Linked DNA regions of Homo sapiens: region 2 is linked to region 1. Evidence: fine-mapped QTL for protein levels in blood plasma. A gene starts in region 1. The other region holds a variant in brackets. All regions are shown on one strand. Distances are between the middles of the regions.

Region 1 (11,622 bases):
GCCTGGGTGACAGAGTAAGACCCTGTCTCTAAGAAAAAAACATATTTTTTTTAATGAAAGAAAAGAAAACCCGAGGCTCTGAGAGATCTTGTCTCAGCTGAGGCCACACAGGTAGAAGGGGGAGGAGCTGAGTTTTCTCACCGTGTATGGCAGGTAGCATAATACCTCCTTAATATTTGCTACAGTAAATGTATTATACAACAATAAAAATGACATATGTGGAAGCCCCTCCCACGGAGGGATGATTTCATCCTCTCACTATCTGGTGACCTCATTCCTCCTCACCCCTGTGTTCACTGGCTCTAACGGTGCCATCACACTGATTAGCAAGCAAGGCCCGGAGCGGCGGGATCACTCCCAGGCCCCACCTTCCACCTCTCCTCTTCCTGGAAGGCCAAAAAACAGTCCCACAGAAGTGGGGCCAGGGCAGGGCTCCGACAGAGGCGTCTCCAGTGACCACGTCCTATTTGTCTCAACACTTGCCTAACAGAGTAGGTCAGAGACTGCTCGTTTGCCTCTTTCGCCCTAAAACCAGGCTGCTTCTGGCCCAGGCCCCATCTAGACCCCATATGGGCCCCATCTAGGCTGTGTGGAGGAGCAGGCTGCAGGGGGCCCAGACTCCAGCTCCAGAGAACCCGCCGTGTGGCCGCCCTGAGCTGCTCAGGAAAGATCCTCGTGGGGCTCCACGCCGCTAGGAACCTTGCACTGAGAATCCTGAAACTGGTGGTCAGAGCGGGCAGGATCTTGGAATGCTAAAATTCAAAAGACTGAGCATCTCAGGGTTTGGGTCAAGTAGTCACCAAGAGAAGGAAAGACCCCAGATAACTGAGGCACAGGCAGCAGATCTAAGTCTGGGTAGACAGGACAGGCCCTGCCCTGCCCTGCTGTGCCCTGGGAGTCACATCAAACCAGGTCAATCCCCAGCTCTGTCCCTTAGAAGCTGTGTGACCTGGGGCAACTCACCTCACCTCTCTGAGCTGTGGGTTCCTTAGCTGGAATACAAGGACAATGGTAGCACCCGCTTTTTATGGGGTTGTTGTGGGTTGAAGAGGGCCAGGGAAATGCTGAGTCCTCCCAGAAGCCTTTCCAGATTGCCCCAGGCACGATTAGTCACCTCCCGTGTTTAAATCATTTCTGCTGTTCATTTATTTTCTAAAAATGTATTCACATTGACTCCTAAACTTCCAGAAGGCAGGAACCACAGCTGTCTTGCTGATCAGGCCACAGGCCCAGGATTCAGCCGATGGGCAGGCACACACCCCTCGCAACACTCGCCCCAGTGGCTGGCAACCACTGTGGCTGTCTGCTCTGCTGCCCCCACCAGACCACAAGTTTTTGGAGGGCAGGAGCTCTCCTGGGTCTCCTGGCATCCCCAGGGGCCTCACTAAATGCCTCTGCAGAAGAGGACATGTGACTGAGGCAGGGGAACGTGCACAGAACTGCACAGCACGTGCTGTCTTCACACTTTTCACACCACATTTGCCAGCTGACACTTTGCAACCTCTTTCCGTCATCTACCTCAACTCACATCAGGGAGTCTCTGTAGACATTTTTTCCCACTTATCATCGCCCTTATGAAAGGTTTATTTATTTATTTAATTTTAGAGATAGGGTCTTTCTCTGTTGCCCAGGCTCGACTACAGTGGTGCAATCATAGCTCACTGCAGGCTTGAACTCCTGGGCTCAAGCGATCCTCCCAAGTAGCTAGGACTACAGGTGCATGCCACCAGACCCGGCTACTTTTAAATTTTTTGTAGAGATGGGTTTTCCCCATGTTGCCCAGGTTGGTCTCAAACTCCTGGGCTCAAGCAATCCATCTGCTTCAGCCTCCCAAAGTGCTGGGATTTATAGGCATGAGCCACGGTGACCAGCCCTCCTCATGAAAAGTTAATAGCACAGATATGCTGTATATCTGTTTAATGTTTGGTGGCTTGCAAACCACAGTGTTAGTTGAGATTTTTTTGTTACACCCCCCTCCCTACCCTCCACCCCACCAAGAACCAAGTTACACCTGTTGGAACCCAAACTTGCTGGCCTGATCCAGAGGCAGTAAGGTACTTGGCACAAATGAATTCAATGAGACCTACATCTGGTTAGTTGAACAACTGTCTTTAAACAGTTTTCTAAACACCCCTGTGTAGACAGACAGATTAACAAACACAGACCCCCAACACACACACACCAGCCATCTTATCTCCTTCTAGACCACTGGCCCCCACTGCCATCTTCCTGTTCAAGTTCAGCAAAGGAAGCCGAGACACAGGCCTAGGGTCACCACGAACTCCATGGGCATCCTGCAGCCAGAAGCCATGCCGCCAGAGGCAGCTGCTTCTCCCCTTCAAGCCTCAGTTTTCTCATCTGTAAAAGGGGCACTGTCCACCCTCCAAGGTTCTCGGATGATTGATTCCCCAGCTCCTCTGAATGCCCCACTCTGGGCCCAGCCTAGCAACCCAGCCCTTCCGCTCTCTGAGGTTTAACTCCCCTGGCTGCTGGCCAAGCCTGCTGAGGGAGGCATCAACCACCCAGGGCACGGCCTCGGAAGAGACTCTGGGGCTGTCTGAGGGCCTGGGAGCCACCTTCTGAGGCCCCGGCCCACTGAGGGGCCTGGCTCTGGGGGCCTCAAAGTCAGAGATGGAAAAAAAAGGAAAACAGAAGAAAGAGGAAAGAGGAAGAGAATTCCAGGCAACAGAAGCCCAGATATCGACAATATGGGGTGTGTGTGTGTGTGTGTGTGTGTGTGTGTGTGTGTGTGAATGTGTGTACAGCAGGGCACAACTGGCCCCCACCATTTCCTTTTAGTGTCCTGAAAGTATCTCAAATACAAACTAATAAGAGTATTCTAATTTTTTTTTTTTTGAGACAGGGTCTCACTCTGCCACCCGGGTTGGAGTGCAGTGGCACAATCTCGGCTTACTGCGACCTCCCCCTCCCAGGTTCAAGTGATCCTCCCACCTCAGCCTCCCAAGTAGCTGAGACCACAGGCATACACCACTACACCTAGCTAAGTTTTTGTATTTTTGGTAGAGACGAGGTTTCACCATGTTGCCCAGGTTGGTCTAGAACTCCTGAGCTCAGGCCAACCACCTGCCTCGGCCTCCCAAAGGGCTGGGATTACAGGTGTAAGCCACTGCACCCAGCCAAATATTCTAATTATTATTATTATTATTGTTTTCCCTTTTGCTAACAATAGTATCTTAATTCTAATATTTTAATAGTTTGCCACAGACAAGTGTCATTTCCTCAGTCTTATAAAAAGTGGGAAGAATGCATCTTTCTCTGAAAAGAACTTTTTTATGCGTCCATAACATGCAGCTTCAAGAGAAATCCTGCACTCCCCCTACTTTCTGGAGTCTTCCAGACCTAATCTCAGCTCTGCCCCTAAACAAATCCCTTCACCTCTCCCGACCTCAGTTTCCCATCCAGGAAAGGAGAGGATAAGATCATTTCTAGGGAAACACTCATGGTTTCTCTGATTTTCAAAATCAGAATGCCGCCAAGCCAGACGCTGCAGGCAAACTGGCCAGGGAGGGAAGTAAGTTAATGGGAGGCTGGGGCTGGTGGGTCACACCTGTAATTTCAGCACTTTGGGAGGCCAACGCAAGAGGCTTGAGGCCAGGAGTTTGAGACCAGCCTCGGCATCAAAGTGAGACCCCATCTCTAGGAAAGGTAAAAATATTAGCTGCATGCGGCGATGTGCGCCTGTAGTCCCAGCTACTCAGGAGGCTGAGGTGGGAGGATCACTTGTGCCCAGGAGTTTAAGGCTGCAGTGAGCCATGATTGTGCCACTGCACTCCAGCCTGGGTGACAGAGTAAGACCCTGTCTCAAAAAAAGAAGGAAAAAAAAAGTTGGCAGGAGCAGGATTCAGAAGAGTCACAGAATAAGGCCACAGACTCCAGGAAGACTTTAGTCTTGAGTCGGAGGAGCCTCAGTTTGCCCTCCCCAGGTGCTGCAGCTCAAGAAGGGCCTGGCGGTCCTACCCGGGCCTGCCAGCAGCTATAAGGCAGGCCCTTGGCCCATGGGGACCTCCAGCCACTCCCTGTGGTTTTGCAAGCCAGCACTTACCACCGTGCTCAGCAGAGCATGGGACAGCTGCCTCGTGGGCCCAGAAGAAGTGGCTTCTCTGCTTTAGTGACAAGGTCCCAGCCCACGCTGCCAGGCACTGCTGTGGCACCCCCTGCGGCAGTCCCGGATCCGAGCAACCCCCAATGGCTGTGTGTGGAAGGAGGAAGCGAGAATGTGGTTACTTAGGCAGGGCCATGTGACAGCCCACACCCCATTGTTTGTGACAGCTTTGGTGACAACATTGATAAAGACAGGGTGGTAGTGGGGCACCTCCTAGGTCTGACACTGTTCTTGGGTTCCCATAACTGTGAAAACACTGAGAACCAAGTAGAAGCTTTCTGGGGAGAAGTTCTTCGGTTTTGGGTGGGGCCCAAACTGAGAAAGGCCACAGCATTACTTCAGCAGCAATGGACAGTCGGGGCCAGAGGGAGCCCCCTGAAGGACAGGAGTGACCAGAGAAAAAGGAGAATGGTCTCGCTTCTTGCCCAAGATTGGTGGGGCGTGGGGAGGGGTGGGAGGTGGTCAGGGAGCAAAAAACACAAAATATGAACCTTCAAAGGGTTTGCAAATATGGTGTATTTCTTCTCGCAGGACTCAAAACACTCTCTGTAGATGCACAGCACAGGCCCTTTCAGCTGCAACCAAGAGCCTCTCTAGGGAGCTGGACTACAGATACCACAAGGGCAAGTCCTGCTTATCTTATTTCTTCATCCTAAATTTGTTCATTTGACCAACTCTGGCACTCCAGACTGCATGCCCTGAGGTCTAAAGGCCAGCAATTCTGGGCTGTGGCCCTCTGGTAGCCCTCCATCCAATGGGGAGGCCAGCGAGTAAACAATTCGGTGGAACATCATGCCACAATGACACAGCGCAGTGAGTGCCATCCTGCGGTGAGCAAGGGAGGGGCCTCTCCTTCCATCCTGGGTGGGGGAGGGAGGTTAACAGGAGGAGCTTCCAAGAAGTGGCACTTGAGATGACAAGCCAGGTGGGCATCCCAGGCAGAGAGCACAGCAGAGGCAAAGGCTGGGAGGCCTAAGAATACCCAGACACTTCCAGAAGGGAGGGAATAGGGGGGTCTCCCAGGATCTGCCCTGCGGCTTTGCACCAGGCAAGGGCTCAGGACATGCACAGAAAGATACTCATATCTTGCCTTGCACAAAGTTGTTTTTTTTTTTTTTTTTTGAGATGGAGTTTCACTCTTTTTGCCCAGGCTGGAGTGCAATGGCACAATCTCGGCTCACCGCAACCTCCGCCTCCCGGGTTCAAGCTATTCTTCTGCCTCAGCCTCCCGAGTATCTGGGATTACAGGCATGTGCCACCACCCCGGCTAATTTTGTATTTATAGTAGAGATGGGGTTTCTCCACGTTTGTCAGGCTGGTTGGTCTTGAACTCTCGACCTCAGGTGATCCACCTGCCTCGGCCTCCCAAAGTGCTGGGATTACAGGCGTGAGCCACCGTGCCCAGCCGCACACAGGTTGTTTTAAAATGAAAACCAGAGACCCAGCAGGTGTTCGCCATGACACAGTCTCAGCCACCTTAAGAAGCTGCAGCTGGAAACAGCCAAAAGCTCACCCTGCCGGCACGGACAGGGAAACTGAAGCCACAAGAGGGGAAGTGAGACCCCTAGAACCCAGGCCCCTCACCCTTCCCCAGCAGGTTTGGAAATAGCCATCCTTCAGGGACAGGGGACTGAGAAACTCTAAACACACCCAAGACTGCCTGCAGGTCACTCTCTGATTAGCGGAGGTGAGTGGTTGCAAGCTGTCTGTCACATCCAGCCTGCCACGTGGTTTTGTGCAGCTTGTGAGCTAAGAATGGTGGTTACATTTTTAAGTGGTTGGAAAATGTTTTGTGATGCATAAAAACTGTGCGAAATTCGAGATTCCGTTTTCATAAAGTTTTCTTGGGACACAGCCACACTAATTGGTGTAAACATATTGTCTCTGGCTGCTTTCACGTTGCAGCGGCAGAGTTGAATAGTTTCATCACCTGCAAAGCCTCACAACACAAACGCTTAACGTTTCCTGAGCCTGTGGTCAATGCCAGACCCTGTGGTAGGTGCTTTGCATACATCAGCTCATATAATCCTCGAAGCTGCCTTTAGAAATGAGGAAACTGAAGCTGAGAGGGAGAATGTGCCTTGCTCAAGGGCACACAGAGTAATGGCAGAGCCAGGACTCAAGTCCAGGCACATGAAATAATGTTCTTGATCTTAACCCCTAGCCTGGGATGGTGCAGGCTGAACGGTGAGCTCCAGCACATCAGCAATTACTATATGTAAGGAAAAAGGAGTAGCTTAGCAGCAGGTAAGCTATTTCTTCTGTGTGTGTGTAATAGGGTCTTGCTCTGTGGCCTAATCTGGAGTGCAGTGGCGTGGTCATAGCTCACTGCAGCCTCAAACTCCTGGTCTCAAGCAAGCAATCCTCCTGCCTCAGCCTCCCCAGTAGCTGTTACAGGAGCACACCACCACGCCCAGCTCCAAGTAATCTATTTCAAGGTGAGACTTGAGCAGTGAAATTTCCTTCTCAGAGGAGCAAATATTGCTAAGATAAATCTGGTGTATGTCGTCTGTGTGAAGACCATAAAACCACACTTCACCGCACCTGACATCTGTGAGAGTCAAAGACTCAAAGTGAATATGTTTCTGCTTCTAGGAATGAAGCCCAAGAAAAATACTCCAAGTTGCCTTCCAAGATTGAAGCAATGATATCTGAGGTGAGAGAAATATTGGGAAAAAACACAGACTCCCCTACTACAGAAACCTGTCCCTTGATGGAATGTGACGCAGGCATGAAAGTTATATTTATACTGAATGCTTATAAAGCACTCAAGACCTGTTAGGTAGAAAAGAGAGGGCACAGAAGTATATAAACAGCATAATTCAAGTGTGCTTGCATGCTGAGAGGACAGACTGAAAGAAATGCTGACGGTGCCTATCTCTGGGTGGCATAATTATTAATGCCCCTTTCCTTTTAAATATATTTTCTTTTCTATATTTGTATATAGAAAAAATGTATATAATGATGTCTATTTTACTTTTTTTTCTTTTTTTTTTTTTTTTTTTTTTTTTTTTTGAGACAGAGTCTCACTCTGTCGCCCAGGCTGGAGTGCAGTGGCACGATCTCAGCTCACTGAAACCTCTGCCTCCTGGGTTCAAGTGATTCTCCTGCCTCGGCCTTCCTAGTAGCTGAGATTACAGGTGCTCACTACCATGGCCTGCTAGTTTTTGTATTTTTAGTAGAGACGGGGTTTTGCCATGTTGGCCAGGCTAGTCTCAAGCTCCTGGCCTCAAGTGATCCACCGGCCTCCACCTCCCAAGGTGCTGGGATTACAGGCATGAGCCATCATGCCTGGTCTACTACTTTGTTTAATTGTTACAACTGCCTCATGAGGTAGGTACTATTAGTATCCCCATTTTGTAGATTAAAAAAAATGTTCCAGAGAGGTTAAGAAACTCGCCTAAGGTCACAGAGCTAGTAAGTGGCAAAGCCAGAGTCTGAACCTAGGGTGTCCTATGAAAGAGCCTGCATTCAATCACAATAAATATTGGTTCAATATATAAGTGATTCCAGCTCCTCCTTGCAGACCTTGCCTGCTGTGATTGGTCTAAGAGGACCCAGTTCTCCCCACCTCCTCGCAACACCGTGTGAGCCTGCTTGGGGTGTGGAGCAGGAATTGCAATCAGCAAAGCCAGTGGGTGTTAGGTTCCTCTCTACACTGGAGCCCAGTAGTGGGCTAGCCTAGGAAGCAAGAGCTGTTTATGGGTCTTCTGAGAAAAATGTGCTCCTGGTTGTAACTAACTGCCTGCTACTGTTGGAACAGCCCCATGTTAAAGCAAAAACATGGCTCATTGGGCCCCTACTTGGAGCTCTCTTACAAGTGGATCCTGAGCAACTAGAGATTTGGTATTCAAACAAACAACCTATAACCTCTTTATACTTAAATGATCATCCGTGCACTAAATTCAGTCTTCCTTCCATTCGCTGATGGATGAAAATGCCTGCAGCCTCATGGTGGTCCCCAGTCCCCAGAGGCAACACCACAGCCTGTACAGCTGCATGTGTGCAGTGGTCTATTTAATTGCGTTTTGCTTCTTTGTTGTTTCGGGGTGGGGAACTGTTCCCACCAGTGACAAGCACAGCTGTAATAAAGCCTCATATTATAGAGACAAAGAGAGGAAGGCTTGGAGGCTTGGGTGCCAAAAGCCAGCGCAACTTAGCTTCAGCCTGGTATTTACCAAGCTTAGGTTGGTCAACAGTACAGTTATTAAAGAAAATGAAAAATTAAACATTTGTGGAATCCTGAACATATGTGGCTAGGCAAGGACTATAACTGACAGGCCAGGTATAGCCTGAGATTTTATAATCTATGTGTAACTTGTCAGGAACTGTTATCCCTCCCCGACCAGGTGCTGGCTTCCTATGCAAACCTGTGTCCGCTTCCCTAAAAATGGGGAAAACAGGGGTGACGTCGCTTATAGAATCCCACCTCCCTTGCCAGTGGTCACTGTCCCTCCAAGGAAACTGAGGCTCCCTGGTGGCGCAGGAGGGCACAGGCGGACCGGAGCCCAGCCAGACTGCAAAGCCCATTAAAAGCCTGTTCCTTCCTCCGAGGAAAGCAAGAGTCTTGCTGGTTGTGCCGCTTGTTTCTCAGGGCAGTGGTCTTTTCAGTTTACTCACAATGGGACCTTTTGTTCGAATGAAAGCAACGGTCTCATGAAATAGAATAAGAACAGAGCTGCTCGCAAGCAAGGCCCAGAAGGGAGGAGGGGAAGTCACGCCCAGCTGCCTGCCCTCCCCCGTTCCCCTGCTGCTAGGGGGGCTCACGGGCTACAGCTTGCTGATTTGAATCATCCAAAGGGGAAATGGTCCACTGTGGGCCTGCTCCAGCCAGGATTCAATTCCCTTTCTCAAATGGGAACAGAGCTCTGGGGAGTTCACTTTCGGCCCCAGATTTTCGCTGCCAATCTGGGCGGCACTAGGAACCAGTTTCTGGGCTGGAGACTGCAGCATGAAGCCATTCCTCCAGAGTGGAAGAAAACAGGGGCTCCCCAGCTCACTGGGTCTGCTTGGGCTGGGGGTAGCCAGCGCTGCTGGTCCCAGACCTGGAAGGCCAGAGGGCAAACAAATGTTAGAAATGTACTCCAGACTCCGTGATTCTTCCCCAGAGGGTAGTGGCTGAAGGAATCCATGCCTCTGGCAGACATCCTCAATCACCTGGCCTCAAAGACCCCTGGGAAGGGGTCTTTAGGGGAGAGACCTTGGTGTTGTTTGAGGAGGCCAGGGGCCTGGCAATAGGAGTCCTGGGATATTTTGTGGAATTTAAGATCAGAAATAAAGCTGGACCTTAGGCATGGACTCGGGGAGCTACAGGGACCCAGAAGCCCTTTCTTCATCACTGTGTATCTGCTCTGCCTGCGTGGTCCCTGGCTTCCCCAACTCCCAGGCCCCCATAAAGGAAAACCCAGATCTGATGCCACTGATGGTGGCTCCAAGGGGCTCATAGGTCACCTGGAGTTGACTGTGCTCCGGGACAGTCTTATTCTGTGAGCAAAGTACCGCTGGGCGGATAATGCAATATGTGCTCCCATCCCAGATAATGTCTACATTTTCAACTATTCAGTCTTTCAGTAAGTACTGATTGGCACATCATGCCAGATTCTGGGGATCCTGGTGAAGGAAACCAGTGCCTGTCCTCATGCGGCTTATATTCAATTCAGGGAAGACACTCAAAACTCCAATGAGATGATAGATCAGCTATCAGTGCTACTAAGGTGCTACGGGCACTATTTACATATGGGGGTCAGGTGAAGTGCTGGGAAGGGCAGACACTGGAGGTGGGGAAAGGATGGGCACTCCCGAGAGAACAGCACCTGCGAAGCTCAGGGGTAGAAGGCCTCCTGAACACAAGAGAACATCAGGAGAGGATGAGGGGCGGCAGGGCAGGCAACACGGGGCCTCCTAAGCCAGTGGTGAGGATTTAGTTTTTATTCTGAGTGGGATGGGAAACCATGGAGGGTTTGAAGCCTTAGACACAGGGGTCAATGAGCTTTTTCTTAAAGGGCTACACAGTAAATATTTTAGGCTTTGTGGCCATACGATCTCTGTTGCAGCTACTCAACTCTTCAAGTATAGAGCAAAAGCAGCCACAGACAAGGCACAGTGTGTTCCAATAAGCTTTACTGATGGACACTGAAATTTGAATTTCATATCATTTTTACTTGTCACTAAATATTGTTTTTTCCCCCAACCATTTAAAAATGTAAAAAGCCTTCTTAGCTTGTGGGCTACACAGAAGCTTCCGGCAGGTTGGAGTTAGCCCATGGGCCTTAGCATGTCTTCCCCCACCTTGATACCTGAAAAGGTGACTATGGCTGCAGCTCTGAGAACAGATTCAAGTGGGTGGGGGAAGCTGGGTTAGGAAGCTGTGACTGTTAACCTTGTCAACTTGACTGGGCAATGGCGTGCCCAAATATCTGGTCACGCGTTACCCTGGGTGTGTCTGTGAGGGTTTTCTGGATGAAATGAACATTTGAATCTGTGGGTTGAGTAAAGCAGGTTGCTCTCTCTGGTGTGGGTGGGTGGATCCATTCAGTTGAGGGCCTGAATAGAACAAAAAGGCTGAGTAATAAGGAATTCCTTGCAGGCGTGTGGCTCATGCCTGTAATTCTAGCACTTTGGGAGGCCGAGGTGGGAGGATCACCTGAGGTCAGGAGTTTAAGACCAGCCTGGCCAACATGGGGAAACCCCATCTCTACTAAAAATACAAAAATTAGCCAGGCGTGGTGGCGCATGCCTGTAGTCCCAGCTACTTGGGAGGCTGAGGCAGGAGAACTGCTTGAACCCAGGGGGTGGAGGCTGCAGTTAGCCAAGATCGTGCCACTGCATTCCAGCCTGGGCGACAGAGTGAGAGACTCCATCTCAAAAAAAAAAAAAAAAAAAAAAAGGAATTACTCCTGCCTGCCTTCAAGCTGGGACATCAGTTTTTAGCTGCTTTCCAATCTGAACTGAAAAACTCAGCTCTCCTGGGTCTCTCTGGTTTGTTGACTGCAGATCTTGGAGCTTAGCAGCCTCCATAATCATGAGTCAATTCCTTAAATACATCCCGATCTCTCTCTCTCTTCCCCCACGCAGACCCTATTGGTTCTCTTCTTCTGGAGAACGCTAATAGAGAGGCTCTGTCCACGCAGAAATGATGGGAGCACAGGCTGGGGGAGTCACCGGGCAGGTGTGAGAAGTAGCTGGGATATGGATGCACTGTGAAACCAGAGCCTGGGTGTGGGATACGCAAGAAGAGATGGGAGTCAAGGAGGCTCAGAGGTGGAAGAGCATGAACTTCCTCCTGTAGACAAAAGGGATAATCACTTGTGTCTCCTTCAGAGACCTTGACAGAAAACATCACTCTAGAAGCAAAACAGGGAACAGGCGGTTGGAGGCAGAGAAACCAGCTACAAGGCTGTTCGGACACTAGACTGTTATCTACATGGGGAGGCACCTGGCAGGTGGCCAGATCCCCAGATGGAATCTCCACCTTGTGGTTTATGAGGCATTCTAGGCCA
Region 2 (11,622 bases), 20 kb before region 1:
CGGGGGCTGTGGGGACATGGAGGCCTCCACGGTACTCCTTGGATGGTCCACGCTGACCCGGCAGCCAGGAACTCTCTCTCCCAGGGTGAGCATTAACTGGCACCGACTGTGTGCCAGGCTGTCCACGCTCACTCCACCCTTCCAAATCCCTAGGAGTAGGAAGGATGCTTCTCCCCATTTCCTAGGTGAGGAAGGGAGGCTGCCAGAGGTCAGCAAGTTGCCCAAGGTCATGCAACTCCTAAGCAGTGGAGCCAGGATTTGAACCAGGGTCGCCTGACTCCAAGCCTTAAACCTAAGGCCCCCCTGCTCTCTGCCCCTGCTGCTTAAATTTTGTCGGTCCCATTGCCTCGCCTCAGCCCCTACGCCCTCTGCAAAGCCTCCCTTGCTAGTCCCTTTATTCACATGTTTCCTGATTCTCTACCATGTGCCAGGCACCAGGCAGGGACAGGGAGAGAGTGGACATGAGGGACACAGGCCCCACCCACAGGCAGCGCAAATCAATCTATCAACATCACTCTGACCGTCACCAGTGCCTTGAAAGGAAAAGGGGGTGTCCTAGTGAATATCTGGGGGCAGGGCTGCAGAGTGGGCCTCTCTGAGAAGGTGACATCCAAGCTGAGGCCTACAGGATGAGAAGATGCCAGCTGTGCAGATATCTGGGAACAGGGCCCCAGGCAGAAGAAACAGCAAGGGCAAAGGCCCTGAGGCAGCACTACCTGAAAAAGAGCAAGAGAGCTCGTGGAGCCGGTGCAGAGTGGGAGGTGACGGGAGCTTTTCTTCACCCGTCCAAGCTAGATGACTGTCAACAGATGAGATGGCATCTGAGCTGGGCAGGAGTCAGGGCCCAGAAGCTTCTGCTGATAGGATCAGACAATCCTGCTAGCCCACGCATTTGTTTGTATCCAGAAATTTGCGGAGGGGCTACTGAACCTCTCAGGAAAATCAGTTGAAGCCTCTCCCTCTCAGGGGCTTGGAGGTCGGGCACAAAGCCAGATAACAGGGACTCCAGAAAGAGCTACCTCAAGGGAGTAGTGGGCATCTCAGAACCAGGGCTGAGACTGACCACCGTTGTGAGAACTCACCCTCACTCGGCCACCCTGGCAGGGTCCCTGTGCCTGTGAAAGGGGCTGTGCTTGTGCCACTTTTGTGCTTAGGTCTCCCTGCCATGGGGCCCTTTCCTTTCTCCTTTTTTCTTGGCAGGAGCAGCAATAAGGCTGTCCCGACGCACATCTCGGCGTGGCGTTCTGGTTCTGCCAACCTTGGGCATAGGTGTGCCCAGTTCTGGGGGGCCCTGTGTGTGTGCTAGAAAAGAGGCAGCAACCACTGCAGCCCTCCAGCCACCAAGGGATGCACAACAACCATGTTCATGATGACACAGAAGCATCTCTGGGTTTCCAGAAATCTTTGGGAAGGGGGGTTCTGGGAATCCCACACTGCCGAAGGGGAAGCCACAGAGCTGGGTTTCTCTACCACGGCACTTTTGGACTTCTGTGCTGTGGGGGGCTGTCCTGTGCACTGTGGGATGTCGAGCAGCATCCCTGACCACCACCCACCAGATGCCCACGATCGTGACAACCAAACACGTCTCCAGACATGGCCAAATGTCCCCTAGGGAGCAAAATCATCCCCGGGGAAGAACCACTAGCTCAGAGCACTCCTGTTTGGGCATTAATAACTAAAGGATAAAGCCTGGGGCCACTAGATTTCCTAACACTTTGGGTTTCTTTCTGTCCATTTGGGAATATTAGGAAAACACAGAAAAGTTGAAAGAAGCAAATTAAGCTCACCCAAAATCCTACCCTCAGTGACTAACCTCTCTCAATAATTTGGTATATTTCCTTCTGGTCATGTTTTCTTCATACTTGATAATCCTACTAGCCACGATTTATGGAGGACTTACCTTATAGCCACGATTTATGGAGGACTTACCTTATAGCCACGATTTATGGAGGACTTAACCTTCTAGCGACTATTTACGGAGGACTTACTTTCTGCAAGGCATCATGCTAAGTACTTTCCATGCCAGTCTCATTAAATCCCCACAACACCCCTGCAAGATGATACTATTATTATCCCATTTCACAGATGAAAAAACTAAGGCTCAGAGTTCATTTAACATCATGTCAAGGGCATTTTTCCATATTATCCTTCAAAAACATCATTTTCAATTGCTGAATCATGTTTGATTGATCATACACCTGGGGCTGCCTTATTTTCTTTACCTCTTCCAAGTTGCTGGAATATTCCACAAACATTTCTGAGTCACCTACTCTGGGCTAGGATCACACTAGAGGCTGAGGGCAAAGATGAGTCACAATTCCTTCCCACAAGCACACAGCATTTTATGCCCAGGGACTGTGTGGGCGAGTGCATGAGTGAGGGGTCGAGAGACCTTGTGCCCCTAAATGCTCAGCAATCAGGTCTCTGTCCACTTCTGCCCCCAGGGGGCGGTACAGCATGATCACCACAAAAGTCCTCAAGGCTAACCATGTTTCGACCCTAATTCACACGACACCTCAAACACAGAGGTTTGATCTTTTGTCGACTGTCTCTAGAGGCAGTTGGGCTACGTCAGTGAAAGACATTAGAAAGAGTTGTTCACCAGTGGCTCATGCCTGTAATCCCAGCACTCTGGGAGGCCGAGGTGGGGCGGATCACTTGAGGCCAGGAGTTCCAGACCAAGCTGATCAACATGGCGAAACCCCATCTCTACTAAAAATACAAAAAATTAGCTGGGTATGGTGGTGCACACCTGTAATCCCAGCTACTTGGGAGGCTGAGGCATGAGAATCGCTTGGACCCAGGAGGCAGAGGTTGCAGTGAGCTGAGATTGTGCCACTGCACTCCAGCCTGGGAGATAGAGCGTGACTGTGTCTCAAAAAAAAAAAAAAAAAAAAGTTGTTCACACAGGAGCTGTTTGTCATTACCTGGTTTCTCTCCCAGTGGATATAAAAAATATCCCATCACGTGGGGTGTGAGAACATCTTTGCCATTACCAAGAGGTGTCATATCGGCAAAGGCTCACATCCTTTTCTGAGGAATGCCACCTCTCCCCACAGCTGCAGGTCCCGCCTCTGGGCAGACGTTCTCACAGTCCTGCCTCCAGGTTTTCCCTCTCTCCCAAGCTGCAGCCTTCTGCTGCCTGGTGGGAGGCCTCTCTCAGGGCAGTACCCATTACATCAACCAGGTTCATTCACCTGCACTCTGCAGGCCAGGCTGGAGTGCGGTGGTGCAATCATAACTCACTGCAGCCTTGACCTACCAGGATCAAGGGATCCTCCCACCTCAGCTTCCTGAGTACCTGGGACTGCAGGTGTGCGCCACCATGCCAGGCTAATTACTTAAATTTGTAGAGATGGGGTCTCGCTATGTTGCCCAACCCAGGCTGGTTTCGAACTCCTGGCTCAAGTGATCCTCACGCCTCAGCTTCCCACAGTGTTGGAGTCACAAGCGTGAGCCACGGTAACATACAATCTGGCCAGGCTGTATGTTATATTGTGTGATTCCGATGATAAGTTCTGGAAAAGACCAGTGGTTACCCTTGGTGGGGAGGGAATGATTTGGAGGGACTTGCAGGGACCCTGTAATATGATAGAAACTTGTCTTATTTGGGGGAGCCATTGATAGTCTCTGAGCAGGGGAACAGCCACAGAAGGTAAGGACATTCACAGGGGACTTCCAGGAGGTGTGGCTTCCTTGGGCTTCCCGGTCACTCAGTCCCTGGGAGGGGCAGGGACAGCAGCTGTGGAAGCTCCAAGGAGCATGCCCAAGGCCCTCTGCCCTCACACACGCCTTGGCAGACCTCTGGGCTCACACAGCCTTGGGAATTCCCCCCAGTTCTGCTTCTGGCTCCTTGAAGCTGTCCCTCCAGCGGGGAACTAATACAGACGTCTCCCATCTCATAGAAGGAGAAATCGGGGCCTGAGAAGGCGGTGGCATGCCCAAGGTCTCATAGAGTGAGTCCAGGGGTGGTGGAAGGACGCAGCCCCCTCTGCTCCCTCAGCAATCTTTGGCACCACCTCCTCCCCGGCACCCAGCTCTGTAGAGGCTTCGTGAATGGGCAGTGCCCAGTGACTGCCTCCCAGTGACCCCCTCTCCCAGTTGGGGATGCTGTGAGCACAGAGTGGCCTCCAGAGAGGAGCTCTGTGGCTGATGAGAAGTCACGCCAGGACCTGGCTTGGAGAATTGGAGATTTGGAGATTTGGGGACTTCCCAGCCCCTTCTCAAGGAGCCAGCCTTTGGTGGCTGGTGGCCCCAGAAAGTCTTAGGAGTTTACTCCCGAATCTGTGATTTTTCATGCTGTGTGGCCTTAGGCAAGTCACTGAACCTCTCTGGGCCTCCATTTGCTCATCCATAAAATGGGGTTGAGAATAAGACCTAACCTCACAGGGTAGGTCGACTTCTGCTATTGTCAAGGGTAATTGTTTACAGTGCCCCGGGCCCTATGAGCATCCCATGTTACAGATGAGGACTGTGAGCCTTGGAGAGACACATGGCAAAGACAGAACCAGGCATCAGACTGACTTCTGTCTCCTTCCCAAGTCTTCTGGGGAATGAAAAATCCCTGCCTTGTGTGACTCTTATCTGAGTGGGAAGGACACATAAGCAGTGGCCACTTGATGGCATAAGCAGACACAGAGACGCCCATTCTACACATGGAAAGATTGAGGCCCCAGATGGAGGAGGAATAACCTGGAGTTAACTGTTGGCCAACCAAGCTGGTCTCTGTGCCCAGGACTGGGGCAAAGACGGGGTGAAATACTGCCCCGCAGCAAGTAGGGTGATGGGGGTGAGCAAAGGAGGAGCCCAGAGACATGGCTGGATCCAAAAAGATCTCCAGGGCCTGGGGGAGCTGAGCCCTAAAAGTGGAAACAAAAGGCAGAGAGGGCAGGAGCCGTGGGGCATGGGTGAGGAGGAGTGAGAGGGCCGGTTTGCCCAGACAGGCAGACATATAGGTGAGTGGGCAGCGAGTGAGGAAGCTGGAAACTTCTTGTGGACTTGGGCACTGGGGAGCCATTGATAGTCTCTGAGCAGGGGAACAGCCGCAGAAGGTAAGGACATTCACAGGGGACCTCAAAAGATGTGGCTTCCTTGGGCCTCCCCGTCACCCAGTCCCTGGGAGGGGCAGGGACAGCAGCTGTGGGAGCTCCAAGGAGCATGCCCAAGGCCCCCTGCTCTCACACATGCCTTGGCCGACCTCTGGGTTCACACAGCCTTGTGAATTCACCTGCTTGCCTGCTTGCTTATTGGTTTGCTTGCTTCTTGGGGTATATTTTACACACAGTAAAAAGCACCAATTGTAAAAATGCAGTTCAGTGAGTTTTGGCAAATGCAGACACCCGTATGACAACCAACCAGACCAAAATAAAACATGTTTCCATCATACCAGAGGGTTCCTGCAAGCCGCTGCTAATCATTTCCCACCCCCAAGAGTAACCACTGATCTTTTCCAGAACTTCTTATCATTGGAATCACACAACATACAGCCCAGCCAGATTGTATGTCACTGTGGCTCACGCCTGTAACCCCAACACTTTGGGAGGCCGAGGCAGGAGGATCAGTTGAGCCAGGAGTTTGAGACCAGCCTGGGTTGGGCAACATAGCAAGACCCCCATCTCTACAAAAAAATAAGTAATTAGCCTGGCATGGTGGTGCACACCTGCAGTCTTAGCTACTCAGGAAGCTGAGGCAGGAGGATCGCTGGAGCTTGGTAGGTCAAGGCTGCAGTGAGTTATGATGGCGCCACTGCACTCCAGCCTGGGTGACAGAGTGGGACCCTGTCTCTAAAAAGAAAAAAATATATAGCCTTTTGTGTCTAGCTTCTTTCAGTCAGCATGGTGTCTTTGAGATTCATCCATGTTGGCATGAGAATCAGTGCCTCACTCCTGTTTATTCAGAGTAATATTTCCTTGCACAGATGGACCACAGTTTATTTATCCATTCACCAGCTGATGGATATTTGGGTTGTTTTCAGTTTGGGGATCTTATGAACAAAGCTGCTGTACACATTTGTAGCAGTCTTTGTATGAACATCTGTTTTCATTCTCTTGGGGAGATACCTAAGAATGGGATTTCTGGCTTGGATGGGGAGTACATGGTGAGTACACGTCTAACTTTATAAGAAACTGCCCAACTGGTTTCCAAAGTGGCTGTATCATTTTGCATTCCCACCAGCAACATGTGAGTGTTCTAGCTTCTCCACATCCTCACCAGCACTGGGTGTTGTCAGTCTTTCTAATTCTAGTCCTGCTGGAGGGTGTGAAGTGGCATCTGACTGTGGCTTTAATTTGCATTTCCCTGATGGCTAATGACCTCAAGCATCTTTTGCAACAGCTTTCCTGGAACCTCCACCTGGAGGTTGAGCAGGCCCTGAGACCCAACTTGGCTGAACCCCAGCTCAGGACACTCCTCTTACCACCAGCCCTGCAACCTCCTTCCATGGCTTTCCCAGCCACCCCGTGGCACCCTCATCAGGATAGCTGCCCAAGTCAGAAACCTGAGATTTCAACCTCCTTTTTCCTCACTTCCAACCCATCAGCAACTCCTACCCTTTTCTTCCCAATTACCTCTCGATTCCACAACTTCTTTGCACCCTGCTCTAGTCCAGGTTCTCCTCATCCTCACACAGCCTCTTCCTCCTCCATGCGGCCACCCTGGCTCCTTCCAGCTGCCCCCACCTTGTCTGCTCCCCTAGTGCAAACTCCTGTGCCCATGATGCTCCCACTGCCTGGAACTTTCTTCCCTCTATCCCTTCCCTCCCAAGTCAATAACTCTGTGTCCTTCAAGTTTCAACCATGATTTTCCTGACCCATGCCCCCCAGCTCTGGCCCCATTGCTCCCAGCATCTCTCCTCTGGGCTCAGGGCCCAGCCATAATCTGACATAATCTGATCTTTTCCTGGGTGATTATTTGATCAATCTGTCCCCCTCTAGACCATGAGCCCCAAAGGGGTCTCGAACTCCTGGCCTCAAGTTATCCGCCCACCTTGGCCTTCCACAGTTCTGGGATTACAGGCCTGTCCTACTCACATGGCATCCCAGGGCCTCTCACAGTGCCTGGCACATTCCATAGTAATCGGTGGCTTGGTTGAGTGGCAAAGAGGGATGGGATCTGGGGAAAGAATTTGGGGAGCCCCTGCCAGATCAGCTGCTGGATGAACCACCCCCAGGGTGGCAGCCCCAGCCTGTAAGAGACAAGGGACCTGGAACAAACTGAGCCCATCATCCCCCGCCCCCCATTTCCTGTCTACCCTCCTTCCTTCCCTGCTGGCAGAGCTGAAGTCAGCACAGTGTGGTTTCCTAACCGTGCAACCGGCTGGAGCAAGTGGTTCAGCTTTCTGAACCTCGGTTTCCCTGGCAAGAAAATGGAACAATCATTGCACCCACATTATGAGGTTGAGTCCTAAATGAGATAATGCAGACAAACTGTTTGACAAGGCACTAGGTATGCAGTAAGTGCTCAGTAAAGGCCAGCTGCTTGCCCCCGGCCATCCCTCTTAGTCCTAGGCCCCAGCTCTGCTGTGTTGTGTTCTCTGCAATGAGAGGGCTGCGCTGTACTCGGTTACCCTCCCAAGGAACAGCGCCTTCCCTCAGCAGCCAGGAGCCACAGAGGGTGACTAATGGGGGACTTCCAGGCCCCAGGGCAGGTCAGCAGGGCTGAGGTTTTGGGGCGTGGGATTCCCCCAGAACCCCGCTGTGATCTCAAGGACAGCGTGACACAGTGGTAAGATCCTGGCTTTCAGGTCTGGGTTCCAATCTCAGATCCTCTTCATGACCTGGGGCAGGTGACTTCACCTAGCTCTCATCCTCAGTTTCATCTTCTGTAAAATGGGGAGAATACTAGAACCGTCTGTGAGAGCTGTTTGAGGGGATTCACGGGGATATTGCAGCTGTGTGTGTGTTCAGGATGTGTTTGCTGAATGGATGAGTGGGGTGATTCAGGCTGGTGGTCCTCAAGGGCATGGGAGGCCCAGGCAGGAGGGGAGGGCACAGGGGTGTGCAGGAGCCAGACTATATCTGCCCGTGAGAGCTAATCAACAAAATTTTCAGAATTTTGTGTCAGTTGTTTAATAAATTAAATTCTATTATATTAAAAGCCAAGGTCATCAGTACTCAAAACTCACCAATTCCTAATAATTGTACTACATTATCCGATGATCGATGCCCTTGTTACTAACACCTATTGTATCATCAACTATATAATGGTTGGTAGCTCAAAATCGGCTGTGGGAGTATTTACATGGAAGACATTGGCAAATGCTACAAATCAGGACTTTTTCCCATTGGAAGCCAGTTGTTAAACACTTAACAGCACGCCACTGGCTTTGGGGCTCCTTCCTGGCTAAATGATCTCCAAGTCTGGCCCAAGGGAAACGCAGGCTTCCACCTGCTCTAAGAGCTGGCGGCGGGCGCCCCCTGGTGGCCGCTTCAAGCACCCGGCTTCGCCCACCCTGAATGAAATCCCACACCTTGGAGAGAGAGAAAACTGTAAAGGGAAGGTGGCCCTCTTCCAACGCAAATGGAAATCTGTGGTTACACAGCATCCTCAGGAGCTGTCAGGAAATAGGGGAAAGCTCCCAGGAAGACGAGGTGACAAGATCCCTGGGGAACAACTCAGAGGTCCTTCAGCCTGAGTCCACAGCCCCCTGCTGTGGAGCCTTCAGCTCCCCTTCTCTGATTTTTCTGATCCCTCCCAAAGGGGAGGTAGACTCAGTCTCTCCTGACCCATCAGCCTGCCGACCCCGGGTGTTAACTGACCCAGCCCATGGCAGACACTCCCACCTTCTTCCATCAGCACCCCCAGGACACTTTGAACACACCTGCCTGTGTGTATCAGATTTGATCCTTCCAGAAGTTCAGGGGAGGAGACAGACACTGCATTTCCAATATGTGTGGGCCCTCTCCCCACTCCTCCCCGATGCTGTCCCATGGCCTTTCCCCCTGACGGCTCTTTCCTACCTTTCCCTTGTCTCTTTCCTCCAACCCCTCTCTCCCAAGCCACAGCCAACCCCTGCCAGACTCAACCTTCTCTGTGAACTCCC[C/T]TTTTCCGGGATAAACCATTGGGGGCAAGGAAAGAAGTCCTTCACTTCCAAAGAGGCCATTGAAGGTATTTTTTTTCTTTTTCCTTTTCTTTTCTTTTCTTTTTTTTTTTTTTTTTTTTTGAGACAGCTTTTCACTGCTGTTGCCAAGGCTGGAGTGCAATGGCATGACCTTGGCTCACTGCAACTTCTACCTCCCAGGCTCAAGTGATTCTCCCACTTCAGCCTCCTGAGTAGCTGGGACTACAGGCGCACATCACTGCACCTGGCTAATTTTTGTATTTTTTGTAGAGACGGGGTTTCACCATGTTGCCCAGGCTGATCTCAAATTCCTGAGCTCAAGCCGTCCTCCTGCCTCGGTCTCCCAAAGTGCTGGGATTACAGGCGTGAACCACCACACCCAGCCGGAGGTATTTTTCAAGAAGAAAAATAAAGACTATCCCCTGAGATGACTTTTATTCCTCTCCTAGAAGGTAGAACAGAGTCTGTTTAAGCGGCAGCTTCTTTCTCTCTCTATGGAAATGACTGGAAGGTATTTGGGAGCAGAAGAGCAAGAACTCTCCAAATCCTGGTTTTCTAATCTGACTGAAACTGCCTTTGCAAAAATTATAACTGAGGAAATGATGACAGTGGAAGAGACCAGACCGAACAGACTCCATCTTGCTTCTAGCCTTTAAGCTGTCCTTGTTCATTCCTTCCCCAAAGTTAGGCTGAACTAACTTTGGGAAATAATTCAGTTCGTGTTTTGACTCTGAAACAAAATTAATAATATCCCTTCCCCCCGAAAAGACCCCCTTCTTGCCTGGGGACCGATCTGCCTTTGCAGGACTAACAAATTAGCTACAAGATTCGAAATTATGGTTTAGGGGTCATGCAGCCTCTGGCTCCAAGAGTCTAAGCCTCCCCAAATTGCTCCTGTGGATAACATCAGTATTGTAAAACCTCAGAGCACTACGTGAGATATTTTGCAGACCCCGCACTGGATGGATCAGTTGACACCACCTAGGCTGGTATTCTGGCTCAACCAGTTCTGCCATCGCAGCCGGGAACAGAAGACATGAAGAAAACCTCACTGCAACCCCCTATGACTGTATCTCCAACCTGACCAATCAGCACTCCCAACTTCCCAAGTCCTTACCCGCCAAATTGTCGTTAAAAACTCTGATCCCCGTCTCCTGTACAGCCTGCTCTGCATGAATTACTCTGTCTCCCTTGCAATTCCCCTGTCTTGATAAATCGGCTCTGTCTAGGCAGCAGGCAAGGTGGATCCACTGGGCGGTGACCTGACCCCCACAAGGTAGTGTGAGTTTTGAATGGGATAATGCAAGTGTTGCTTAAATAGCAGGGCCAACCTGGTTTACTGGGGCTGAGTTTCACGGAATATGGGACTTTCAGTGCTAAAATCAAGAAAGTTCCGGGCAAACTGGGACGACTGGTCACCCTATGCTTAAAATCAGGCGTCAGCAAACTGACGGAGCTGAAATGAGCCTGCCGCCCGTTTGTAAATAAAGTTTTATTAGAACACAACCATGCGCATTCATTTATGGACATATTGTCAGTGGCTGCTTTTGTACTACAAGGACAGAGTTGAGTTGTTGCAACAGAGGCTATGGTGTTGCAACAGTTAAGGCCTACAGTATTCACTGTTTGGTCCTTTAAGAAAAAGTTTGGCAGCTTGAACTTTTCCACCATTTGACAGCAAATCAGTGCTTCTGTGAGTTGTACAAAAGGTTGCAGGCTGCATCTAGGATCACCAATAAGCTACTGGCTGTTAATGAGAGACAGGGCCTGAGTGAAAAGGAGAGGTCAGGGTGAGCTTCTGGAGAGTGGGAAAGATTCTGTGCTTGGCCAAGCTTTAATCAGTCAGGCCCCTGAGTCCTCTCCTAGGCCCATCTGTGCACTTCCTTTTAAAATCCAGTTCTGGGCCGGGCGTGGTGGCTCACACCTGTAATCCCAGCACTTTGGGAGGCCAAGGCGGGAGAATCACCTGAGGTCGGGAGTTCAAGACCAGCCTGACCAACATAGAGAAACACCATCTCTACTAAAAATACAAAATTAGCTGGGCGTGGTGGCGCATGCCTGTAATCCCAGCTACTCAGGAGGCTGAGGCAGGAGAATCACTTGAACTCAGGAGGCGGAGGTTGCAGTGAGCCAGATCGCGCCATTGCACTCCAGCCTGGGCAACAAGAGCAAAACTCCATCTCAAAATAAATAAATAAATAAAATCCAGTTCTAACAAGAACTCTGCTAAGTCAGCTTAGCAACAACCCTCCCCCCACCACTCCATATCTGATCACCTCCCATATCTGATCACCTCCTATATCTGATCACGTTCCTCATCTGCCACCATCCCCCCGGTGATGTCTGAGCACCCTGGCCTGCCTCCAGTATGAATCCTGTTAGGTCAGTGTAGAAAATGACCGAGAACCCATCCCCAGCAGTCAGTTTAGCCAGAATTCCCCTTCCCCTGATGTTTCCTCTTGGTAATTTTCCAGCTGCAGATATCCAACCCTGTTCCCTGGCTATCAGCTCCCACTTGCCCCTGCTGTACTCATAGTTGAGCCCAAATGCCCCCACTGCAAAAT

What was found. PIP is the posterior inclusion probability: the model's chance that the variant is causal. The UK Biobank Pharma Proteomics Project read protein levels with antibody pairs (Olink). The fine-mapping took linkage between variants from a reference panel, not from the people measured, so its PIPs are less certain.
Region 2: its variant is fine-mapped to the plasma level of the SELPLG protein (UK Biobank, PIP above 0.99).

What each region holds. Positions count from the first base shown.
Region 1 is chr12:108,629,677-108,641,298 of GRCh38, forward strand. It overlaps SELPLG (selectin P ligand), which reads right to left and starts at 4,218. Exons shown (of 2, transcript NM_003006.4): 1 at 4,064-4,218. It overlaps MIR4496 (microRNA 4496), which reads left to right and starts at 6,134; the gene lies at 6,134-6,194. It overlaps LOC105369968 (a long non-coding RNA gene), which reads left to right. Exons shown (of 3, transcript XR_007063449.1): 2 at 4,655-6,561; 3 at 6,719-11,622. RefSeq lists enhancers at 2,132-2,281, 3,690-3,739 and a silencer at 4,980-5,029.
Region 2 is chr12:108,609,878-108,621,499 of GRCh38, forward strand. No RefSeq gene overlaps it. Among named protein-coding and RNA genes, the nearest start is that of TMEM119, 18 kb to the left of the region's middle. RefSeq lists a silencer at 116-410 and enhancers at 7,415-7,874, 8,455-8,504. The variant C/T (reference allele first, on the strand shown) is at 9,041.